Homo sapiens: one gene and its partners. The protein of the gene in region 6 purifies or fractionates together with the protein of the main gene of each other region. This does not show direct contact. Each region holds a gene or a part of one and is shown on either strand. Other genes may lie near its edges. The genes, in order: YBX1, FXR1, STIP1, STAU1, PES1, G3BP1 and EIF3B.

Region 1 (3,500 bases), on a different chromosome or scaffold from region 6:
TTTGCAAAAGCATTATATATAACTTTTAACAAATGAGGATATCCATCTATCCCCTGAGGACTGCACTTAATAGGAGAAGGTGGCCCCACACTGCGTCAGTTTAGATGACAGGCGAGTTTGGTTTTGCATGCTTCAAAGCTGACCAAACCAACTTTGCCCCTGTGTTACCGTATCAAACTCAATTACAAATGTCAACCAAAATCCCTTCCAATCTGATAATACATCAGTGGAAATGCAATTCATGTGTATTAACTATGTCATTCTTTATATGATCTGACTGCATGGAATTGTTAGTTATCACCTCCCCAGAATTCAATAAATCTTGTATTAGAGACTTGTTGCTTCTACTTTCTCCAGACTGTTAAGAGAAGGGAGGAAGAGTAACATCTCACGTTTCTATGAAATTTTTTTGCAACATTCTTTCACTTACTATCTATTCAATCTCATTATGAGACAGGACATGTGAAAGTATTGTTAATCCCATTACACAGATAATGTAACAGGCTTTAAAGTTAGGTGACTTGCCCAAGGTCACACAGTTAGTAAGGAGACTTTCTAAACCCAGGTATTGGGTCTCCAAATCCCATGTTCACTCCAAATCTCAGCTATATCCATTACAGGATCACTCATGCATTTCCATTGCAGAGGAGACAGGACAATCAACGAATCTGAGGCCAATTAAGTGAAGCTGCCCAGAACTGCAGTCTCCCTGATACACCACTAAGACCTGAGCAGCCAAAGTCCCAAGAAACAACTACATGTTGAAACCACTTCCAAAAAAATGAAAGCATATTGGTGGCACCTTGTGAATCAGTACAACTGGGTGAGTTGAGTCAAATAATTGATCTCATCTGTCATCTAAACTGTCACATAGTTTTCATACCTTTCAGATATAGCCAACTATCAATTACCTGCAGTCATAGGGGATAGCAGAATTATGGATAATTAAAATCCCAACTCTTTATTTTTATCAACATCTCCACCCCTGCCCCAACCCCAACCCTTAAGGGTTGCCAACAGGCAACAAGACCGAGAAACTTTGCTGTCTCTTGTTCCTAAGTCTACACATTCTTTTGAACATGCAGAAGGGGAGTAAGGAACAGTTGAGCTGTGTTCTTCCAAACAAGAATACCAATTTTATAAAACATCTACTTTAAAACAACATTTTGTCTGAAGTAGTCCTGTATTTATTTACATTTAGAATTTAAATGATTCCATAATTACATTTGACCCTGAACTACCTGATTGGGTTTGGGTGTACTAGAAATTGATATAGCTTCCTCCTTGTCATCAAATACTGTGTAGGACACTTCAGTGAGCTACAAAGCACCAACCTATGACAGCCCTTCCTATGAAACATGCTGCCATAAAAGCTAGTATCTAATTAAATGTGAGTATGGATATTAACTTTTAGGTCTTTTGATTTCTGGATTATAGTACAAAAAAGTAGTTATGGTCTCTAATTTTAATACAAGTTGACAATATTTCAAAAGCCTTAGTGAGAAAACTGATAGCACAAACATATTTTTTCCTACTCATTTCGTATCTGTGAGGATAAGTACATTCAATGTAGCCTACAGCATATCTAAATTTGAAGTATTAACATACACTTGGCAGTGGTTTACATTAGTAATAATCTTAATTCCTGAATGTGCAAACATTTTCCCTAAATGATACTTAGGGAGAAAGTTCACTATGCAGTACTCATCAGTACTCATCCTATGTTAACAGTTTTCTCTTCCCAAATCACTGGAAGCCAATCTAAAAATTATTTAATGAGCAGCTGCCAACCTTGTCACACTTCCCCCCACTTAACCTTAAACTAGTGAAATTTTTTCATTTTCCAAGCCAGCCAAAACTCTCCAAAGGTTTAAAAAAAAAAAAAACCCAATACCCATTCAAAGTGATTTAAAGTAAGCAGAAGGCTCTTTATGCTACTTTTCAAGTACTCACTTCAATTACTATGTTTTGCAGGTCTGTCTTATTTACCCTTGATTATGGAGATTTGTCCCTACAGGTACACCTAAAAGCCTTTGAAAACTTCTTGCCAAAGTTTCTGTGTATTTATAGCAACATTATTTGTTCAACTTTAGAATCATGGAATAATCTGTTCATCTGAAATTAGGTATAAATATTTAATGCAGTGAGTTTGACTCAACATTTGAGAAAGCCACAGCTGTTGACAAAATTCCAATTTGAAATGTCTAGGATAATTAAGTCAACTCTAACACATTTCCACGTATACATTTTTAAGCATGCTACTACTCCTGTCGTAAGTAAATAAACTGGTGGTTGGACTTAACCTTTTATAAGGAACAAAAGCTGAGAACATATCTAACCTTTTCTTCTTACAATCCTTGAATCAGAAGTGCAAATATCTACACAAGCACTCACCTGGTGTACAAATACATCTTCCTTGGTGTCATTCCTGCAAGACAGAACCAAGTTGAACAAGTTAGAAAATGAAATAAATCTCATGTTGTCAAAGATTAATTTTCCCAGAGACTCTCTGGCTGCCAATTAGGTACCAGGAAATTTGGCAAAAATCAAAAAACACAAGCCACCATGCTCTCTGCTTTCAAGACTTCAGCAGTTGCAAACAGTTGTAGCCTCATTACCCGTAAGATAGGCAAAAAAAAAAAAAAGTCTAAGAAATTAAAGTGTGACCTACTGAGCCATAATTAAGAGGGTAGCAATGACTAGCAAAATATATTCTGCCCCTCCTTATCCTATTAAACATTAACTGTTCTAGCACACCCTCCTCTTACCTCTAGAGCATGGTTACCAACAGAAGTAGTAGTTACATTCTCACCTTATCCTGCATCTCCCAACTACCAACTTTCCTTGAGATCATAAAAATGAGAACCCCCCTCCCCACCAACAGAATGTATAACGCAAAGAGTGAAACCTAATGGGAACTGTGACCTTTGGGTGATAAGGTATGTTTGAATGTAAGAAAAGCCCAGTTATAAAAGCTACTCCACAAGTCCAGACAAGGACTGATGAAGGTTTAGACCACGGAGCCATGTATAAAAAGACATTTGAGATCTCTTTTTGAGGCAAAATGAGAAACTTTGTGGATGACTGGATGTCAGAAGCGAGGGGGTAGAGAATAATCTCACTTTTTAGCCTGGATATTGGGATTAAGGTGATAACACGAGGAGCAAGAATCACCACTGGAGAAGGAAACGGATTTCCAGGCCTGCAGTGGCCTGCCTCACCCTCTTTACTCCGTCAGGTCAGAGTGAGAAAAAGCTCAGTAGTAGCTCTAGCGTTTAATGACAAAGGGAACAAAGGTTACAATGAACTGGACAAACTGGCTTACTGACTGTTAGCTTCTTGCTGAACTGGGGGCAACATATGCATCAAAGGATCCACATAAAATTAACTTTAAATCTGACCTGTAAATTATAGCTTGGATTATTATAAGAACATTTTTAATTGATGGGAACAGGATAATTAAAAAAACAGAACAGGTAAACTGTAAAAGCGACTTAAGG
Region 2 (3,500 bases), on a different chromosome or scaffold from region 6:
CTGCACTGCAACCTGGGTGACACAGTATTATTTATTTTGAGATCCTATCTCAAAATTAATAACCTAAATAAATAGGTGGGAGAGTGGACACTCTTACATCAGGTCAGAGGCTTAATATCCATAATACAGAAAGATTTTCAAAACTGACAAAGGACACCCCAACAAAAAAATGGGCAAAAGACAGGCAATTCTTAGAAAAACAAAATCAAATGGCAAACAAAGGCAAGTCTTAAAAGAACAAGTTCAAATGGCAAACAACATTAAAATTCACAACTGGGATCAAGTTCCAATGAGATATCCCTTTACATCCAACAGACTGGCAAAAATTAAAGATCATAAAGCCAACTTCTGGCCCAGATAAAAAGAAAAAGCTGCCATTTATTATTGATGGAGAACACAGGAAGCATCAGAAGCCTTTTTGGAAAGCAATCTTTCAACATTTATTACAGTTTTTTGTTTTTTTAAAGGTTCCCTTTCACCAAGCTATCCCATTCTTTGATATCTATCCAATGGAAATAGTTATGTGGAGCGACAAAAAACTGAAAACAAAGTGTATGTCTATTAACTGGGGAATGGCTGAATTTAATACATTGTTATGATTATATAACCTTAAAAAATAAATCATACTCCACATGAAAATAGTTAAGATGTGGATGATCCTATTTTTATACAGTAATACTGAAAAACCCTATACTTGTAACTGAATGCGTACCTATATACAATTCTACGAGCATAGTGAAATATATGGAACCACGTATATGTGCTACAAACAAAGGTTACCTAATATGGAGGCGGAGGTGAGAGACCCAGGTGGTGAAGAGCAACCAGGGGAAAAAAAAATACAACAGACTAAGTTTTTATATCATACTTACGTGTGTGTAAAATTATACACGTGTCTATGTAAACGTATACTTTTAAGAATTAGAATATATCTTATTGTCAGCCAACACGTTTTCCATACAGCACGTATGTGCATCACCACTCCCCACTTCTAATTTTTCCATCTCTAGGGATCTCAAATTTATAAGATATAAACTTATAAGATGCTTACCACAACTAAAAGATCTAAGTTGTAATTTGATTCCAACAAGTACCAAATAGTCAAGGCTGCTACTGCAATCAAAAAAATGTCTTAACTTCAAACAATATACTTTTTAAAAAGATCTACGCAACTAAATCTACAAAGTAAAATTATTCCAAATCACTAGATACTTGTTCCACAAATTCAAAAAGTCTGCAAATTTACCAATTACATTATACATTACAATAATTATTACAAGTTTTTTTTTTTTTTTTTAGATGGAGTTTCTGTTGCCCAGGCTGGAGTGCAGTGGCGTGATCTTGGCTCACTGCAACCTCCACACACACCCCCACCCTGGGTTCAAGGGATTCTCCTGCCTCAGCCTCCAGAATAGCTGGGATTACAGGCACCAGCCACCATGCCCTGCTAATTTTTGTGTTTTTAGTGGAGATGGTTTCACCATGTTGGCCGGGCTGGTCTCGAACTCCTGCCCTCAAGTGATCCACCCGCCTCAGCCTCCCAAAGTGCTGGGATTACAGTCAAGAGCCAGCACGCCCAGCCAATTATGGAGTAAGCTCTAATAAGAAAAAAAAATTATTCAAGGCAAGCATTCAGCATTCATTAGTATTGAGCATGTAACTGTTCTGAGTTTGAAAAAAGAAAAAGGACAATGAGGATGTGAAGATTTCTTTAAGAATACACAAGTGTCTACTACTACTGTTTACATACCAGTAATGTTCTTGGCTTGTTAGGTTCACCCATTTGTATGTATTATCTAACAGTTCTCTTTGAAATGGAATAAGTTAACAGTTCCAAATGGCCACCCAAAACTATTCTGGGCCGGGCATGGTGGCTCACACCTGTAATCCTAGCACTTTGGGAGGCTGAGGCAGGCAGATCACCTGAGATCAGGAGCTCAAGGTCAGCCTAGTCAACACGGCAAATCGCCATCTCTACTAAAAATACAAAATTAGCCGGGCGTGGTGGTGCATGGCTGTAATCTCAGCTACAATAATTACTGAGGCACAAGAATCGCCTGAACCTAAGAGGCAGAGGTTGCAGTGAGCCAAGATTGTGCCACTGCACTCCAACCTGGGCAACAGAGCTAGACTCAAAAAAAAAAAAAAAAAAGAACAAAACTATTCTGACTTTCTCGTTGCAGAGTTTAAGTTCTATACAGTTCCCTCTATGCATGCATAAAGTTTTGTGACAATATCTGAACTTGACCAAGATCAAAACATAACTTCTTTAAAAAAATCATTTAAATTCAGTTTGAACCAAAATCAGAAATGATGAAGTTAGCAGTTACTAAGATTACACATCATTCAACAAATATACACTGAGGGCTTACTATGAACTAAGTACATATATCAACAAAATTTAAGACTTGAAAATAACCTGAAAAACTGTAAAAACAAAAAGGTTACATGAAAAGGGAACCAAAAACAGCTACCTATGATTAATTATGTAGATTAAGAAAGGAATTCAGGAGCCTCTGAGGCTCCTGATCTGAAGAAATCTCAACACGGGAGCGCATCCCTTTGCCAACAATAATAAACTTCATCAGCTATTTTACTAATGGAGACCTCTGTTCATCTTCCCAAAATAGACAGCAAAAAACGCTGAAGATAGAGAATGGCAGGCAAGTTAAATACACTGATAGCATAAATTATCTTGATTAAAAGAAGGAGGTAGTGGCTCATGCCTGTAATCCCAGCACTTTGGGAGGCTGAGGCAGGAAGATCATAAGGTCAGCAGTTTGGGACCAGCCTGGCCAATATGGTGAAACCCCATCTCTAATACAAAAATCAGCCGGGCGTGGTGGCTGGCACCTTTAGTCCCAGCTATTCAGGAGGCTGAGACGGGAGAATTGCTTGAACCCGGGAGGCAGAGGTTGCAGTGAGCTGAGATTGCGCCACTGCACTCCAGTCTGGGCAACAGAGCAAGACTCCATCTCAAAATAAAACAAAATGCATGAAAAGAAATAGATAATATTAATTTCAATATTATTTAACCTAATATACCTAAAATATTATCCAACATGTAATCAATGTAAAAAATTATTGGCCCGGCGCAGTGGCTCACGCCTGTAATCCCAGCACTTTGGGAGGCTGAGCCAGGTGGAACATTTGAGGTTAGGAGTTCGAAACCAGCCGGCCAACATGGTGAAACCCTGTCTCTACTAAAAATACAAAAATTGCCTGGGCGTGGAGGCACACAGCTATAATCCCAGCTACTCGGGTGGCTCAGGCATGAGAATCACGTGAACCCAGGAGGCGGAAGTTGCAATGACCCGAGATAGTGCCACTGCACTCCAGCCTGGGCAACAGAGCAAGACTCTGGCTCAAAAAAAAAAAAAACAAAAATAAAAAAAAAATAAAATTTAGGTGTTTCACATTTTTTTTTAATTCTAAGGCTTTGAAACCCAATTTGTATTTTACATTTAAAGCATGTCTCAATTCAGACTAGTACATTTCAG
Region 3 (3,500 bases), on a different chromosome or scaffold from region 6:
CGGAGTGGCACTGATACATGCTCCAGTGACCCAAAGGCTGTGGGATGGCAGCGGAGACTTCTCTTTCTTGGGAGCGGCAAGATGCTTGCCTATGGCATAGTTGTCATCTCCTCCCATCAGGGAAGAACCAGTCTCCATTTCCTGGTGTGGCAACATGTCACCACAGGATAGATAAATGTTCATTAATGGGTAACAGTCAAGCTAGCTCCCCAAATTGATTCCTGCCATTCTTAAATATTACATTACAAAGGGGATGGAGGATGAAGAAATGCTACTGTGGTTTAAACCTCTCCCTTCTCAAACATATAAAGTGCAAGAAGTAAGGATACAGCGGGGTTTTGTTTTGTTGTGTTTTTTGAGACAGAGTCTCACTCTGTCACCCAGGCTGGAGTGCAGTGGCACGATCTCGGCTCACTGCAACCTCCGCCTCCCAGGTTCAAGCGATTCTCCTGCCTCAGCCTCCCAAGTAGCTGGGACTACAGGCGCACACCCCCACACTTGGCTAATTTTTGTAATTTTAGTAGAGACGGGGTTTCACCATATTGGTCAGGCTGGTCTTAAAACTCCTGACCTCAGGTGATCCACACGCCTTGGCCTCCCAAAGTGCTGGGATTACAGGTGTGAGCCACCGCGCCCGGTGGGATACAGCAGTTTTAAAAAGTGAGGCAGCTCTGCCTGGCCGCCCCACCGACTGGGAAGTGAGGAGCGCCTCTGCCCGGCCACCCAACTGACTGGGGAGAGAGGAGCACCTCTGCCCACCTGCCCCACCGTCTGGCAAGTGAGGTGTGCCTCTGTTGGGCCACTGTGCAACCCTCCAAGTGTGAAGTGACAGCCTTGTGTGTGATCTTTCTGCCCTCCCCAAGTTTGCATTTTCCACATTAAATTTTACTTTTTCATTAAAAAAAAAAAAAAAGTGAGGCAGGCCTTGGCCCTGTCAGAACAGTGTCCTCACTAAAGGGTTTCTCCTTACTGAGCTGCCCCACAAAAGGTCAGGTGCCCCACAGCAGCCTACCTGAGGGCAGGCAACCCCTTGAGAAGCTCATTGTATTTATTATTATTATTTTTTGAGACAGAGTCTTGCTCTGTCCCCAGACTGGAGTGTAGTGGCACAATCTTGCCTCACGGCAACCTCCGCCTCCTAGGTTCAAGCGATTCTCCTGCCTCAGCCTCCTGAGTAGCTGGGATTACAGTCACCCGCCACCACGCCCAGCTAATTTTTGTATTTTTAGTAGAGATGGAGTTTCACCATGTTGGCCAGGCTGGTCTCGAACTCCTGACCTCTTAATCCACCCATCTCAGCCTCCCAAAGTGCTGGGATTACAGGCGTGAGCCACCGCGCCTGGCCATATTTATTTTTTTTTAAAGATGGCATCTCACTCTGTTACCAGCCTGGAGTGCAGTGGCATGATCACAGCTGACTGTAACCTTGAGCTCCTGGGCTCAAGCAATCCTCCTGACTCAGCCCTTTTTTTTTTTTTTTTTTGAGACAGAGTTTCACTCTGGTTGCCCAGGCTGGAGTGCAATAGCACAATCTTGCCTCACCACAACCTCTGCCTCCCAGGTTCAAGCGATTCTCCTGCCTCAGCCTCCTGAGTAGCTGGGATTACAGACACGCACTACCACATCCGTCTAATTTTGTATTTTTAGTAGAGACGGGGTTTCTCCATGTTGGTCAGGCTGGTCTTGAACTCCTGGCCTCAGGTGATCTGCCTGCCTTGGCCTCCCAAAGTGCTGGGATTACTGGTATGAGCCACTGCGCCCGGCCAACTCAGCCTTTTAAGTAGCTGGGACTACAAGTGTGTGTCACCATGCCTGGCTAAATGTTTTTTTCTTTTTGTGGTAGAAATGGTGTCTCACCATATTGCCCAGGCTTGTCTCAAACTCTTGGCCTAAAGCAACCCTCCTGCCTCAGTCTCCCAAAGGTGAACCACCACACCAGGCCAAAATACACTTTTAAGAGGTAAACGTTCTGTGAGATAGAGTTGTCACCGAAGTTACTAACTCATTCTATGTATTATCCACCCACGACCCAGTAAATTGATGCAAGAAATAGTTTTGTCAAGAGAAATGATTTTAGGCTGTAATCTCAGCACTTTGGGAAGCTGAGGCGGGTAGATTAACTGAGGTCAGGAGTTCGAGACCAGCCTGGCCAACATGGTGAAACCCCGTCTCTACTACAAATACAAAAATTAGCTGCTGCCGGGTGCAGTGGCTCACGCCTGTAATCCCAGCACTTTGGGAGGCCAAGGTGGGCAGATCACCTGAGGTCAGGAGTTCGAGACCAGCCTCAACATGGAGAAACCCCGTCTCTACTAAAAATACAAAAAAAATTAGCCGGGCGTGGTGGTGCATGCCTGTAATCCCAGCTACTTGGGAGGCTGAGGCAGGAAAATTGCTAGAACCTGGGAGGCGGAGGTTGCAGTAAGCTGAGATTGCGTCATTGCACTCCAGCCTGGGCAACAAGAGCGAAACTCAGTCTCAAAAAAATAAATAAATAAATAAATTGCCCGGATGTGGTGGTGCATGCCTGTAGTCCCAGCTACTCAGCAGGCTGAGGCAGGAGAATCATCTGAACCTGGGAGTCGGAGGCTGCAGTGAGCCGAGATTGCACCACTGCATTCTCACCTGGAGGACAGAGTGAGACTCTATTTGGAAAAAAAAAAAAAAGAGAGAAATGATTTTGGAATCCTCAAATAGAGAGATCAGGAACTTCCATCAATCAGAGACCTTACAGAGGCAAGGGCAGAAGGAACCTGCCAAATTAAGCAAACAAGGGATAAAAAATCCTAGAGCCCAAGATGGAGGCCAGAAGACGAAGAGTTAACAAAACTCAAGTGGTGTCAAGAGGCAGCTGGTGAAGTTCCTGCCTATGCTTTAGAAAAGCATTTTTCAAACAGAGTACTGATCAACAGTGGGTCAGGAAATCAATTTTGTAGGTCATGACCAGCATTTTAAGAGACCAAATGGGACAAAAAAATACCAGCACACAGTGCACATAACAGTAAATACTGTTTTGCTGAATGTGTTACATGGCTGTACGCCTGTGTTGGGTTAAATGTAAGAAGTGTATCATTGTGGGATTTGAAAGGCCCCTATTGAAAAAAAAAAGCCTGAACATTCAAAATCTGTCCAACTTTTTTTTTTTGGAGATGCAGTTTCGCTGTCATTCAGGCTGGAGGGCAGTGGCGCAATCTTGGCTCACTGCAACCTCGACCAGCCAGGTTCAAGCAATTGTCCTGCCTCAGCCTCCCACGTAGCTGGGACCACAGGCGCGCACCACAATGTCCGCTTATTTATTTATTTTTTTTTTTTGAGACGGAGTCTCGCTGTTACCCAGTCTGGAGTGCAGTGGCGCAATCTCGGCTCACTTCAAGGTCCGCCTCCCGGGTTCAAGCGATTCTCCTGCCTCAGCCTCCCAAGTAGCCGGGACTACAGGCGCGTGCCACCACATCCAGCTAATTTTTGTATTTTTAATAGAGACAGGGTTTCACCATATTGGC
Region 4 (3,500 bases), on a different chromosome or scaffold from region 6:
AATGTCACCTTATTTTTTAATTGGATATCAGCTCCAGGAAATATTCTTGATTTATTTGTTTAGCTTCAGTCTGAAAGCTTCTTTCCCCACCTTGGTGGGCTCTACCGTCTAGCATCTCTGCTCTTTCTGGTTAAATGCTTCCCGTCTTCCTGTGGGTGCAGAGTGCAGCTCAGCATTCACAGGTTAGTGCACTTTGTTAGATGCTCTTTGTGGGCAGGGGTGTGGGCAGGAGGGTGCATTAGGAGAAGGAGGCAGGCTCTGCCCAGGTGTCTGTCAGGGTGCCAGTGGTCAGGTGGGGCAGGGTTTTTCTGCCGATTGCCACAGTTATTGCTGACTGGACTTTGTGTAGATTTAGACAGCAGGAGCTAATTTTTCAGTGATCTGATTTATGCTCATGGCCTTTTTTTTTTCTTCTTCTTTTTTAAGACACCCATAAAGAAACCAGGGGATGGAAGAAAAGTAACCTTTTTTGAACCTGGCTCTGGGGATGAAAATGGGACTAGTAAGTGTGATCTTAATATCGTCTTCCTCTGAACGTGATTCTGGGATTTGCATGGGTCCTGAATAACAGCAGGAGCCCAGCCAGTGAGGTCCCGCATGCAAAGTGTCTTTATCATTCCCTGATTCCCTGCGCTGCCATGCGTGCCAAGGGGAGGGCCAGCGTGGGGTTTGATGGTGTCATTGCGTTTTTCCAGGCTGTGGATGTGGATTCGTGTTTACCGTGTATGTCCCTCCCAGGTAATAAAGAGGATGAGTTCAGGATGCCTTATCTAAGTCATCAGCAGCTGCCTGCTGGAATTCTTCCCATGGTGCCCGAGGTCGCCCAGGCTGTAGGAGTTAGTCAAGGACATCACACCAAAGATTTTACCAGGGCAGCTCCGAATCCTGCCAAGGCCACGGTAACTGCCATGATAGCCCGAGAGTTGTTGTATGGGGGCACCTCGCCCACAGCCGAGACCATTTTAAAGAATAACATCTCTTCAGGCCACGTACCCCATGGACCTCTCACGAGACCCTCTGAGCAACTGGACTATCTTTCCAGAGTCCAGGGATTCCAGGTAACTGTCTGGCCTGAGCTGTGATGGCTGTGCCTCAGGACAGTCATCTTTTGGCTTCTCTCAGAAAATGAACTTTGAACTTTGTACTTTTTTCTTAAATCAAGTTCTGTCCAGGGATGGGCTGGGGAGCAGTGATGGAAGGGTAGGAGGTATAGAAGTATTGTAAGCATATGTGGTAAGAGAAATATCTTTATCCTTTGGTAGTAAGATTTCAACATGCAAGCCAACCCTAAAAGCTTCTAACCACTAGCAGTGGTTGTAAATTTGGATTTCAAAGAACAGACTCATCGTGCTGACACTTTCTGTCTGGTAGGAAAGGATATGGCTTCTCCCAGTCTTGGGCTTCTGAGCAGACACCTAGGTTCCTGGAAGGTTCTGGGCTGACAGGGCAGGTGTTAGTATGGCCACAGTGGGGCTGAGTTGGAAAAAAGAGCTGGTGATCTTGCTTGTGGGGCCTGGAGCTGCAGCCCTCCAGCCCACTCATACTTGCTGTTCCCTACCTAGCCTCAGCTCTCTTTTCCCCCTTAGGTTGAATACAAAGACTTCCCCAAAAACAACAAGAACGAATTTGTATCTCTTATCAATTGCTCCTCTCAGCCACCTCTGATCAGCCATGGTATCGGCAAGGATGTGGAGTCCTGCCATGATATGGTACGTCACACCTTGGGTGAGGGATTGGGGTGTTGTGTGTTTATGTGGAGCCTGCCTTGGTTCAGCTTGTTACTAGCCTGAGGAAGATGGGAGAAAGATTGTCCCATAGACCTTGAGAGCAATGAATCGTTTGATAGTGTTCATATTTTTGAAGACTTTTTGTCATAGCTGATTGGATCGATTTCTCACTCTTGATCAGAACTCATCAGCTTTAGCCCACCTTTCCCTTCCTTTTCCCTGCTGGCCTGGAGGGGCAACTGGGATCCTGCAGCTCACCCAGAGACTGCACTCACTTCATCTCTCACCAGAACAAGGAATTGCAGGTCCACGTTCTGGCAGCTGTAAAAACCACTTGCTTTGGTCTTCTGTTCAGATGAAATTATTGTTATAAGAAAACTGAGAAAAGGAATTGATCAGATCAACAAATCTAAGTAAACTGTGATGTATTCACTTGATGGGATGTCATGCATGCATGAAATTAATGTCTCTGGGTGGGGTGTGGTGGCTCACACTAATCCCAGCACTGCGGGAGGCTGAGGCAGGCGGATCACCTGAGCTCAGGAGTTCAAGACCAGCCTGGCCAACGTGGTGAAACCCCATCTCTACTAAAAATACAAAAAAAAATTAGCCAGGTGTGGTGGTGGGTGCCTGTAATCCCAGCTACTTGGGAGGCCAAGGCAGGAGAATCGCTTGAACCCGGGAGGTGGAGGTTGCAGTGAGCCAAGATTGCACTACTGCACTCCAGCCTGGGCAGCTGGGTGAGACTGCGTTTCAAAACAAAACAGTGTCTCCGAAGATAATGTAATAAGAAGAAAAATACATGATAGGCCGGGTGTGGAGGCTCACACCTGTAATTCCAGCACTTTGGGAGGCCAAGGTGGAAGGATCGCTTGAGCCTAGGAGTTTGAGACCAGCCTGGGCAACTTAGTGAGACCCTGTCTCTATAGAAAGAAAAATACATGATAGATTTTTGTTAGAAAGCAGGATATAACATTTATACAGTCTGGTTACCACATGGTTAAAAATACTAGAAGGAAAAATATAACATTTTCAGAGGTTATGATTCAGTGAGGTAACTGAATATTTTTTAATTTGTATTTTAAATTAAAAATTCAAAGTTTTATTTAGTAGTACCAGAGTTGAAGAAGTTGCCACCTGTTTGCTGGGCAGCAGGAACTCTCTTGCCTGCCTGACCAGTGTATTATGCTGTGGTCCCAAGCGGTGGCTGTGGCTTTACCCTTCTTTCCATCCCCACTAGGCTGCGCTGAACATCTTAAAGTTGCTGTCTGAGTTGGACCAACAAAGTACAGAGATGCCAAGAACAGGAAACGGACCAATGTCTGTGTGAGTGCACTGATGAAGGGGAAGGCGCTGATGATGGGGAGGCTGCCCCTCGTTTGTGTTGAGTTTACACTATCTGCTGACTCAGCGGGGAAATATTTGCCTGAGTTACTTTCTGGCCCTTTTGCCTGAAAGTTTTCCAGATTCTCTGGGCAGAAAGCTCTACTTTTAAAAGACATTTTGAGGCTGGGAACAGCGGCTCACACCTGTAATCCCAGCACTTTGGGTGGCCAAGGCAGGTGGATCATGAGGTGTCAGGTGTTTAAGACCAGCCTGGCCAAGATGGTGAAACCCTGTCTCTACTAAAAATACAAAAATTAGCCAGGTGTGGTGGCAGGCACCTGTAATCCCAGCTACTTGGGAGGCCGAGGCAGAGAACTGCTTAAAACCTGGGAGGCGGAGGTTGCAGTGAGCCGACATAGCGCCACTGCACTCCAGCCTGGGCGACAG
Region 5 (3,500 bases), on a different chromosome or scaffold from region 6:
CCCCATAAAAGAGTGAGAAAAGGGACCCTGGTCCCTGCTGCTCCGAAGACTGGCTGGCCCTCCCCTCCCTGCTCCGGCTCTCCCACTTCCTTCAGGTCTAGCTCAGACTCGGACAGACCACTTTCCGACCTGGCCAGAGCTCCTGCCTTCTACATCACCTAGTCTACAATCTTTGCTGCATGTCTGCTGCTGGGCTAGCGTGTGAGCACCAGAGGGTGGTGCTCCCAGCGCTGTCTCTAGCCCAGAGGGGCTGGCAAAACCTTGGCTGACTAAGGTGCCTTGGGAAGGCCAGGCCCAGCGGGGGCGGGGGAAGCATGGGGCTCAGGCCGCCCACTGAGTCCCACCTCTGAACCTTGGGATGGACACTCAGAATTGAGTGACTCCCTCCTTGGGCCCAAGCCAGGTCCAGAGGCATGACCCGAGGGGCCAGGGTAGGCTGGCAGCTGGCCTGGCTCAGCCCCCAGGGAGCTCTTGGGAAATGGCCAGCAGACAAAACTACTTTTTGCTCAGGGAAAAGGCACAGAGCTGTCATCCCAGCAGCAGGGGACACAGAAGGCTCATCTTTGCCCTGGAGCAGTTAATAGGGCAAAACAGGGCAAAGAACTGAGGCCCAGACAGAATCACAACTCTTGAGCAGTTCTGCCCCCTAAAACCATGGAGGCCGAGCCAGCCCATTTGGCCCCCAGGACGCGGCAGGATGTTCCGAGCAACGTGAAAATCAGTAGTGATCACCATGGGTGCCGGGTGTGCCCATGACTCTTAGCTGTTCCGCTATTCTGCTGCCAGACAGTGACCTGTGCTGTGAGAGCACATAGGGCCAAGAGAAGCCCTGCCTGTTCCCTCACTCACACCGCCATCCTTCCATGAGAATCTGTGAGGGCCCCTGACAGGCACATCTGGGGACCAACCCCATTTCCCACAGCCCAGCACTGAGCAGGGAGACCCCGCCCCTACAACCAGCCTGAGTTCCACAGCTATGAACCCAACCCTGGCTGCTCACAGGAGGGGCACAACTGGGCTCCGCTACGACCTAGTGCCAGTCCTCCCCATCCGCTGAGAGGAAGCAACGGCAGTGAACTGGCCAAGGAGGAAAGGGGAATGCGTGGCTGGCTCCCTTCCCCCAGGGCCAGCTGTGTGGAGGCCGGCCCACCACAGGGCCCTATTCACCACCAGGGAGGACACACAAAGACCAGTCTGAGCAGCATGGGGGCAGGACATCAGAGAGAAGGAAGGACCAAGAGGAAGGCAGGAAGGAAGGAGGAGGAGAGGAGGGCTGGGGAAGGGAAGAAGGAAGGGCCACCCACACGTGCCCCAGGGGGAGAGGGAACAGGGACTGCTGAGGGCCAAGCCCGCCTCTCACTCGCAAACAGGCCACAGCCTCACCACCAGACAGCCAGTCAGGGTAGGTTCCAGTCCTTGCAACCCCACCCACAAGGGATCATAAGTAACAGCCCAGGGCACCTAGAGTCCCAGCTCCCCCTGGAGCCCCTGATAATCTGGGCAGCAGAGCCACTGTGCTAACTGGACCGGCAGCGGCTGCTCTCCGCTGAAGGCACCAGTTCCCACTCAATGATCAAGCAAGGTGGGCTAAATGCAGGCCACCAGCACAGGGAGGCAGGAGAGCCTGGCCCACCTGCGGGGCACTAGAAGCTCCATGAGAGGGCAAAACCAGGGTTTCTCTCAGTGGATCCCTGCCAACAATTCCCAGGATTTCAAAGAGATAAAGAAAAAGGCTGGGCTCTGTGGCTCACGCCTATAATCCTAGCACTTTGGGAGGCTGAGATTGGAGGACTGCTTGAGCTCAGGAGTTCCAGACCAGTCTGGGTAATATAGTGAGACCCTATCTCTATTTTAAAAGAAAAAGAAAACAATATATGTAGGAAACAGTGCCACATGCTAAGTGCTTCTCCTGTGCTCACCGTTCCCCTTCTCTCCCAGTCCCCGAGTCCTGTGGGGCAGAGAGGCAGGAAGGGGGAAGCAGAGAAGGGAGGCAAGGCCACTTGGCCAAGGTCTGGCAGCTATCGGCAGCAAAGCAGGGACGAGGAGCCCAGTAGGTTCGAGGGCAGGGCTCTGCCACTGTCCCCGTGGTGGCACCACATGGTGCTGGGCATGCAGGCTGGGTATGGCCCTGATAGCTGTTCTCACTGTTTATTCGGCCCTAAAAGGCCAAGCACCAGGCACTGTTAAGGGTGTAGACACTGTTAACTGAGGCACAGAGAGGTGAAAGGAACACGTCCAAGGGCACGCAGCTGGCAGGTGCTGCCATAGGGCTAGCTTAGGCTCCCGCTCTTAATGAGGATGCTGTGTGGCACATTCTGCCGCGCCTCACCCCTCATCAACAGTTGGGAACCCAGCACTTGCTAAACTCCATGGACAGCAAAATCCCCCTTCCTCCACATCCATATCTGTCTAGGAGGCAGCACAAGCCCGTCCCCTCCCGACAGGCACACTCACGTCATGGGAGAAGGCATAGGGAGTGATCCACACGATGGGCTGCCCCAGTACCTCGGCCTGGTAGTAAATGCCTTTGATGGACAGGAAGACCTAGGGGAGAGGAGGAGACATCTGGGTGAAGACCATGGGGTGGCAGGAGAGGGGGCAGGGTGGGATGCCAGCCGGGCAGTCCCAGGCTCACCTTGCGCAGGGCACGGGCAGCGATAATGTAGTGCATGAACTCCACAGTGAGCCGGCGGCACAGCTGAATGGTCTGCACGTGGCACTTGCCAGTCCGCGGGAAGGTGGAAAACAGGAAGCACATGGAGAGGGCATCGTCCAGGTCCCGCAGGGCATCGATGAACGTGGGATACCTGCATGGCCAGTGAGGCAGCACATGGGGCCTGTTCAGCGTGGGTGCCAAGGGGGACCCTGATCTCCTTATCCCACCCCAGATGCCCCGTTCCTCAAGCCAGGCCTCACCACTGCCACCTCCTGACCTGGCAGGAGCAGCTTCCCCACAGCTGACCACAGCCCCTAGGAGGAACCACTTAACCAGGATGCGCCCACTAGGCTCTGAGGACCAGAGAAGTCCCGATGGGGGTCCTCAAGACACCGAATGCTCACCAAAGACCCAGCCTTGACCCACGTGCGGATTTTGTGGTGCACGACGGTAGACGGAGTCAGGGGCTCTATGACTCTCTTTGAAGGTGGAAACTTTAGTGCACAGACACTCTACAGGGAGGTCCAAAATGGAAAATGGGAAACCGAAGCTGCCCTGGTGGAGCAGGGAGCGGGGTGGGGGCTGCTTCCCCTCAGCAGCACTTATGACTGGGCCTGGCCACCGGTCGCCAGCGTAGGTTATGTCTTCCATGCCTCTCATCCCTTGGACATGTCTAGTTGGCAGAACCAATGAGACCCAGGGAATTGGGTCCAGGAAGAGCCAGAGCAGAATGTGTTTCGGGGAATCCTCTGGTAAATGACGAAGCCAACAAGGATGAGCCACCCTGGGCACTGTGTGGCTGCCCTGTTGAGGGACAGAGGCATGGGTCACAGAGAAGACACGG
Region 6 (3,500 bases):
GTTTTGAGACAGTGTTTCGCTCTTGTTGCCCGGGCTGGAGTGCAGTGGCGCCATCTCTGCTCACTACAACCTCTGCCTCCTGGGTTTAGGTGATTCTCCTGTCTCAGCCTCCTGAGTAGCTGGGATTACAGGTATCCACCACCACACCCGGCTAATTTTTGTATTTTTAGTAGAGATGGGGTTTCACCATGTTGGCCAAGCTAGTCTCGAACTACTGACTTCGGGTGATATGCCCTCCTCGGCCTCCCAAAGTGCTGGGATTACAGGCATGAGAGTACTTTATATATTCTGGATAGAGGTATTTTAAAAATTAGAGATATGGGTCAGGCGCAGTGGCTCACACCTGTAATCCCAGCACTTTGGGAGGCCGAGGCAGGTGGATCACTTGAGGCCAGGGGTTCGAGACCAGCCTGGGCAACATGGTGAACCCTCATCTCTACTAAAAATACAAAAATTAGTCGGGCGTGGTGGTGTGTGCTTGTAATCCCAGCTGCTTGAGAAACTGAGGCATGAGAATTGCTTGAACCTGGGAGGTGGAGGTTGCGGTGAGCGCCACTGCACTCCAGCCTGGGCGACAGTGGAAGATTCCTTCTAAAAAAAAAAAAATCAGTCAGTCAATCAATCAGGTAAATGCCTTGCAAATATTTACTCCTAATCTGTGGCTTGCCTGCGTGCCTTTTCATTCTTTTGATGGTGTCTTTGCAGGGCAGATGGTTTTAATTTTGAGGCAGTCTACGTGATCAATTCGCTTTCTTCTTCATTTGCTTTTGGTGTGTCTAAAATCTTTGCTTAGTGTCATGCAAGTTTTCTTTAGAAGTTCAGTTTTGGGTTTTACACTTTGATTACACTGAATCATTTTGAGTTAAATTTTGTATGTGGTGTGAGACATGAATTGAGGTTCTGGTTTTTTTTTGTTTTTTCCATATGATATCTAATTGTTTCAGTACCAGTTGTTGAAGAGAGTATACTTTTTCCACTGAATTGTCTTTGCACTTTTCTTGGAAATATAGTTGTCCATGTGGATATGTTAGTGAACTCCATTCTGTTTCATGGATCCATTTGTCTCTTTATGTCTAGCCTGTGTATCTATGTACGGTATCTGGTATTTGTGTATACTAAAAACACTTTTAAATATATGTAACGTTATCACACAGTACATATTTGGCAACTGATTTTTCTTTTTAATAATGTTTTTGAGTTATGTGCTCGCTTTCTGGCAGGCATAAATAGGGTGACATATGTCTTGGTTTGCCAGGGACAGTCCTGATTCACTTCAGTTAACCTGACACTATTAATAGTAGTTGTTTTCAATCTTAAAAGTGCTCTCATATGGTTGTCTTAGGTATAGAAGTTTCCCTAATGTGAATAAACCACAACTTAATATCCATTCCTTATTTGATGGACATGTAGATTGTTATCAATGTTATACTTTACAGATAGGGTGGCAGTTATTTGTTTTTGTCTTGTGTGAGTTTGTTTTGTCTTGGGTGAGTTTCTTTTGTATATGTACCTAGAAGAGAACTGCTAGATTTTCATCAGAGTGTTTTTGATTTTATTAGATAGTGCAAAATTGTTCTCCACTGTGGTTGTACCAGTTGAGACTTCATCTTCAGCAGTCCTGTAGGCTCTTTTTTTTACTTGGTTGCCAATGTTTGGTGTTGACTGAGATTTTAATACTTTGGCGCATCTCTTGTAAGGTATCTCCTGTGAGAAGTGATTTTATTAATTGCATTTTCCTGGTTACTTACTCTGTTTTGTTTGCTGTCCATTTAGTACTTTCCTGAGAATTGGCTGCTCCATTTCATTTGCCTGTTTTTCTCTTGGGTTACTCTTTTAGTGATTTGTATGCAGGTTTATATACATTCTACTAATCTTTTATTATATGATATTATATTTTCTTACTATAAAACTGGCACTGAAAATGGGCTATGAAGGCATTTGGCTACTTTTTATTTTGTTGGAGTGAGCTTTGCCATTAAAAATGCAGGTGGAGTATGGGCTGCCTTTATGTTTCCCTGCCCGTCTGTTAAAAATTGGAGGATAATGCTCATAGTTATTTCCCCCTCCGCCGCTAGCTGATGGAGTCTTGCTCATTCGCCTAGGCTGGAGTGCGGTGGTGCGATCTTGGCTCATTGCAAGAGCTCCGCCTCCCGGGTTCACTCTGTTCTCCTGCCTCAGCCTCCTGAGTTGCTGGGACTACAGGCGCCCACCACCATGCCTGGCCAGTTTTTTTGTATTTTTAGTAGAGACGGGGTTTTACCGCATTAGCCAGGATGGTCTCTATCTCCTGGCCTCATGATCGCCCACCTTGGCTTCCTAAAGTGCTGGGATTACAGGTGTGAGCCACCGCGCCTGGCTGATAATGCTCATAGTTCTTTAGACCCTTAACATTTTTCTGTTAACTTCAGCACAATTATTGATGGGGAGTTTCTTTGAAGTTGCTTTGCAATCTGGAAACTTGGGATCAAGTGGAAAATTTGAAAGTTAATGTAGTACAGTTGAACCATGAACAAACGTGGGTATGAACTGCTCAGGTCCACTTGAGCAGATTTTTTTCAATGAATATATTGGAAAATTTTTTTTGGAGATTTGTAACAATTTGAAAAAGCTCACAAACTGAATAGCCTAGAAATAATAAAAAAAATTAAGAAAAAGGTATTTCATGAATGCATAAAATATATGTGGATACTGTTATTTACTACTGTAAAATATACACAAGTCTATTACAGATTTATTACAGAGTTAAAATTTATCAAAATGAACCCACACAAACACTTTGAGACCATTCAGGGCACCATTTGCAGTCAAGAGAAATGTAAACAAATGTAAAGATACAGTATTAAGTTATAACTGCATAAAATGAACTTTAGTATATACTGTACTATAATTTTTTTCCTAGCCACCTCCTGTAAATATTGCAATGTGCTTGTGTTGCAAGTATCTGCTTACAACACTGTGTGATGCTAATCATCTTTATGTGAGCAGTTCTTCTCTCCAGTAAATTTGGATGCAGTAAAAAGTGATTTCTCTTCAATGAGTAGTTTTCATCATGTTTAGTACAATACTGAAAGCCTTGAATAACACCATGGGACCCATACGAAATATCACTAATGATGCTGAAAGCACTCCCAAGAAACAGAAAAGTTATGACATTACAAGGAAATATTAAATTGCTTGATCTGTACCATAGGTTGAGGTGTGCAGCTGTGGTTACCTGTCATTTCAGAGAGACGATTTGTCTTTTAAACAGACAGCATAAACATATACAATACTGAAAATGTATTTTGCAAATGATTTTCTTATTTTCTTTAGCTTTATTGTAAGAATACAGTATATAACCTACAAATAGTTAAATGATTGGTTATATTATTGGTAAAGCTTCTGATCACCAGTGTGCTATTAGTAGTTAAAATTTTGAGGAGTCAAGTTATACACAGATTTTCAACTCTGGGCTATCCATGCCCCTAATTCTCACCTTGTTGAAGGCTCAACTGTAGTTC
Region 7 (3,500 bases), on a different chromosome or scaffold from region 6:
TGAGAGGTGCTGCGGCATGGGGTCCCCAGGGAGCCAGCCTCGGCGTTAACATGGAAACAAGCACAGCAACAGCCTCTGGTGGCCGCTGTGAGACTTACCAAATCACAGATGCAGAGTGTGCAGTGAGTATTACATATGACTGCCATCATATTATTTTTACTGGAAATGTTATCTGAGGCTAAGTAAGCCTCCAAAAATACAGTAGCAAGTGTGGACAATGAAGCAAGGGAGAGCAGCAACAAAAGGGTATTCTTTTAACTCAGAGCAGAAAGCTGGAAGCTTCTCCATGATTTCGACACACTGCTGGAACACAGCTGAGACCGACACCGTGACACCAACCACAAAGGTAAGGCAGCCTCACAGCTGTGTAACGAATACCCTTCCCACTAGAAGACAAGGGACTGACCCCCGGGGGGAGGTTACTGGATGGCTGGAAGGCACTTGTTTAACCACAGAGAACCACAACCCGCAGACAGGTCTGCCTGGTCACTTCACGAAAGCATCTGGGAGCGCTTATTTCACTCTGTGCGGGCTTGGCCTGAGTCCTGGAGTACCGTGGGTCTGCAGAGGTTCAATGAAGTCCTATCCACTGACACTGGGGCAACCCTTTCAGCGCACAATACTCTCTCTACCAAGAAGCCGGGTGCAGGCGCCTGAGGGGTCTCTGCCACAGCAGAGCGCTACTCACAGGGCGGACAGGCTCAGAGCGCAGACACCTACCTCCTCAGGCCCGCCAACACCACGAACTGTCCTTGGGGGCTCCAGAAGATGGTGTTCGCCTGCTGCTTGTCGAACATCTCTGAAAGGAAAGAGCGCGCCTGTCACGAGCTGCGAGGGCTTCCACAGTGCCGGGGCAGCCAAGGCTGGAGGACTTGGCCGTGCTCATGCTGCCCATGAGGGCAGAGCTGGTAATGCTGGACCACCTCGGAAAACAATTTTACAAAGTCCATCGCCAAGTACCCCCTAAGTCATGATCCATACTTTAAATGGGAAAAAAAAGAAGATGCGACAGGGGTATTTCAAAACAATACTATCTTATTTCCTGAGGTAACTGGACAAAGAATTCCCTTTACAGCAAATGTTCACTGCTGCAGGGACCCCAACAGAGAGATGTCAGAGACGTGTGACCCCAAAAGACCAAAGCCACTCTCCTAGCGACAAGGCGTCTTTGGATAAGCTGTATGCTTGTTGAAACTGACTACAGTCATCATCTTTGCAGGTACTAACTCTTACTTCCGGAATGGATCTCGGGCAGAGCCGCTGGAACAGTGAGAAGTGAAGGCCAGCTGGGGCTGGCTCAAGTCCCCCTCAGAGCATATGCTCCCTGCATCTCAAACAGAGCTGACAACCTGTGGCCTCTCTCCCCTCAGCCTGTGGTACATCCAAAAAAGAGGCATGGGGCAGGCTGACGTGGGGAGGAGGGGAGGAGATGTGGGAGGGCAGTGCACCCTGGCAGGGGCAGGGGTCTCAGACTTGCACAAGCGAAAACCCCAACAGCCACGGGCATGGGATGGAGCCCATGCGGTGGCCCCAGCGTCCATGCCAAACCTCAGGAGAGGCGTGTCACGCAGCATGTTTGGAAGGTACAAGGTGCCTCTGCTTGCCTATGTTTTATGACCTAGAAGACTTACACAAGTCTCTGGACAGTCTGCAATTGCCCATATGTTTCTATCAACCAGAATTAATGAAACAGCCAATCTTGTAATCCACTGCCAACTGAGGGCACCACGCACCCTGCCAAGCTCTAGCAAAGTGAAAACTAAACTCCTCACAGAATCATGCTGCGAAAGGTGCGGCCAGGAGATTCCAACCCCTTCCTGGTACAGAGCCAAACCCATGGCTCTGCAGGAGGGCAGCTGGCAGCCAGAGTCCTGTGTGAGGAACACAGCCCATCGCCACCTCCTGGCTACCACACACACACACCCCACGCCTATGAAGCAACAAGCAATGGCTCATTCAATCCCCGCGGGCACCGGGCTCTGTGCTGAGCAGAGACCCCAGGATGAAGTGAGGAGCTGAGGGCACAGGCAGCAGGTGCCGTGAGACAGGCGAGGGCCCACGCACCACTGTGAGGAGCGAGCCCCAGGTGGGTGCAGTGTGGCACCCCTGGAACCGGGTGCACGGGGGCAGAGTACAGCTGTGTGCAACAGCTCTGCGCACCCTGGTCAAAGGCACCTGACCCAGACTGGGGACTGGCAGGAGTATGTCCACAGGAAGTGACCCCAAGCCCAGGGACAGCAGCTACAGCCAGAAGAGAAAAAGCTTCACTTGAGATGATGGCAGAGAATGGAAGCCTTGGAAATACTCGCTTAAACGTGAGGGCTCAACGGGGCTCAGAGAGACACCCTGCAAGGAGGCGGCACCTCCAGGCCATCGCTCACTTCCATCAGCCGAGGCCACACCCCATTCATAGGCGAGTCCCGGCCTGCCCAGCAGTGGTCCTAGGCCAGTCAAATGCTCACTGTTGGGCAGCGACTGGGTCATCATCTGTGCTGACCTACTCAGAAGAGGAAAGGGACCAGGTTACTTACTGATGAGTTCAATCTTCCCGTTGTTTTTGACGTGGTAGAAAGACACAGATATCCGCGGAGCCTCTCCGTGCAGCACAGCAAACTTACTTCCATTTGGTTCCCAGGCAAAGGCTATGATGGTTTCTAAAATGCACAAAACAGACCCCTCCCTTTTTGGTCAATTCAGAACATAGTGCTCTTGATCAGTTAAAATGTTCACTATTCAACCACAGAGAAATATCCCCCGACGTGTAAAAGTTCATTAAAAGGACGGGAGAGCAAGCAACAGCAGGAAAGGTGCACATTCCTGGAGTTTCAGAGACAGCTGCTTCCACTTGTGTGGAGTGACCTACGTGAAACTGCTCCCTTCCTGAGAGCAGGACACCCACAGCAGGACCGCAGGAGCCCGACATTGTCAGCAGCTGTGGATGCCGCTTCCCTCGCACCCAGTGTGCACCTACAGTGGGATCCTGACCTCCGGTCTCCCTGCCTGGAAGGGCGGCCATGTTTCCCATTTTCTCACCTATTTTTAACCCTTCCTTCCTCCTTTTCTCCATGGCAAAACAAAAAGCCAAACAAGAACACAGGCTCAATCTCTTTTCTCTTTTTTTTAGACAGGGTCTTGCTCCGTCACCCAGGCTGGAGTGCAGGGGCGCAATCTCAGTTCACTGCAACCTCTGCTCCTGGGCTCAAGTGATCCTCCCGCTTCAGCGTCTCAAACAGCTGGGACTATCGGTGCGCACCACCACACCTGGCTAATTTTTTTTATTTGTTTTTTGTACAGAGAGGGTCTCACTATGTTGCCCAGGCTCTAAACACGTTCTGTGACCTGGAGATGACTATTCATGGTGAGGGCTCACAGTCCTGACTCAGCTGCTCAGACAACCCCTCGCATGGAAGTGTTAAAGCCAAGAGTAAAACAGCACGTAGGCCCCATTCGCCTCAAAGTGACTAAAATACAACTTGCCTTTCATCTCGACCACATCCACA

The links.
Region 1: the proteins of G3BP1 (region 6) and YBX1 purify together in Homo sapiens (affinity purification with mass spectrometry; 3 studies listed by BioGRID and IntAct, with this or other methods). This does not show direct contact.
Region 2: the proteins of G3BP1 (region 6) and FXR1 purify together in Homo sapiens (affinity purification with mass spectrometry; 3 studies listed by BioGRID and IntAct, with this or other methods). This does not show direct contact.
Region 3: the proteins of G3BP1 (region 6) and STIP1 purify together in Homo sapiens (affinity purification with mass spectrometry; 2 studies listed by BioGRID). This does not show direct contact.
Region 4: the proteins of G3BP1 (region 6) and STAU1 purify together in Homo sapiens (affinity purification with mass spectrometry; 3 studies listed by BioGRID and IntAct, with this or other methods). This does not show direct contact.
Region 5: the proteins of G3BP1 (region 6) and PES1 purify together in Homo sapiens (affinity purification with mass spectrometry; 2 studies listed by BioGRID and IntAct, with this or other methods). This does not show direct contact.
Region 7: the proteins of G3BP1 (region 6) and EIF3B purify together in Homo sapiens (affinity purification with mass spectrometry; 2 studies listed by BioGRID and IntAct, with this or other methods). This does not show direct contact.

What each region holds. Positions count from the first base shown.
Region 1 is NC_000001.11:42,692,418-42,695,917, reverse strand, and holds part of YBX1 (Y-box-binding protein 1), read right to left. Parts: intron 2,429-3,500; coding exon 2,395-2,428; intron 1-2,394. UniProt on the Homo sapiens protein: DNA- and RNA-binding protein involved in various processes, such as translational repression, RNA stabilization, mRNA splicing, DNA repair and transcription regulation.
Region 2 is NC_000003.12:180,919,170-180,922,669, reverse strand, and holds part of FXR1 (RNA-binding protein FXR1), read right to left. Parts: intron 1-3,500. UniProt on the Homo sapiens protein: mRNA-binding protein that acts as a regulator of mRNAs translation and/or stability, and which is required for various processes, such as neurogenesis, muscle development and spermatogenesis.
Region 3 is NC_000011.10:64,189,171-64,192,670, reverse strand, and holds part of STIP1 (stress-induced-phosphoprotein 1), read right to left. Parts: intron 1-3,500. UniProt on the Homo sapiens protein: Acts as a co-chaperone for HSP90AA1. Mediates the association of the molecular chaperones HSPA8/HSC70 and HSP90.
Region 4 is NC_000020.11:49,115,335-49,118,834, reverse strand, and holds part of STAU1 (double-stranded RNA-binding protein Staufen homolog 1), read left to right. Parts: intron 1-426; coding exon 427-502; intron 503-738; coding exon 739-1,058; intron 1,059-1,586; coding exon 1,587-1,709; intron 1,710-2,967; coding exon 2,968-3,053; intron 3,054-3,500. UniProt on the Homo sapiens protein: Binds double-stranded RNA (regardless of the sequence) and tubulin.
Region 5 is NC_000022.11:30,581,911-30,585,410, forward strand, and holds part of PES1 (pescadillo homolog), read right to left. Parts: intron 2,808-3,500; coding exon 2,636-2,807; intron 2,545-2,635; coding exon 2,455-2,544; intron 1-2,454. UniProt on the Homo sapiens protein: Component of the PeBoW complex, which is required for maturation of 28S and 5.8S ribosomal RNAs and formation of the 60S ribosome.
Region 6 is NC_000005.10:151,778,454-151,781,953, forward strand, and holds part of G3BP1 (ras GTPase-activating protein-binding protein 1), read left to right. Parts: intron 1-3,500. UniProt on the Homo sapiens protein: Protein involved in various processes, such as stress granule formation and innate immunity. Plays an essential role in stress granule formation.
Region 7 is NC_000007.14:2,371,827-2,375,326, reverse strand, and holds part of EIF3B (eukaryotic translation initiation factor 3 subunit B), read right to left. Parts: coding exon 3,478-3,500; intron 2,655-3,477; coding exon 2,532-2,654; intron 800-2,531; coding exon 721-799; intron 1-720.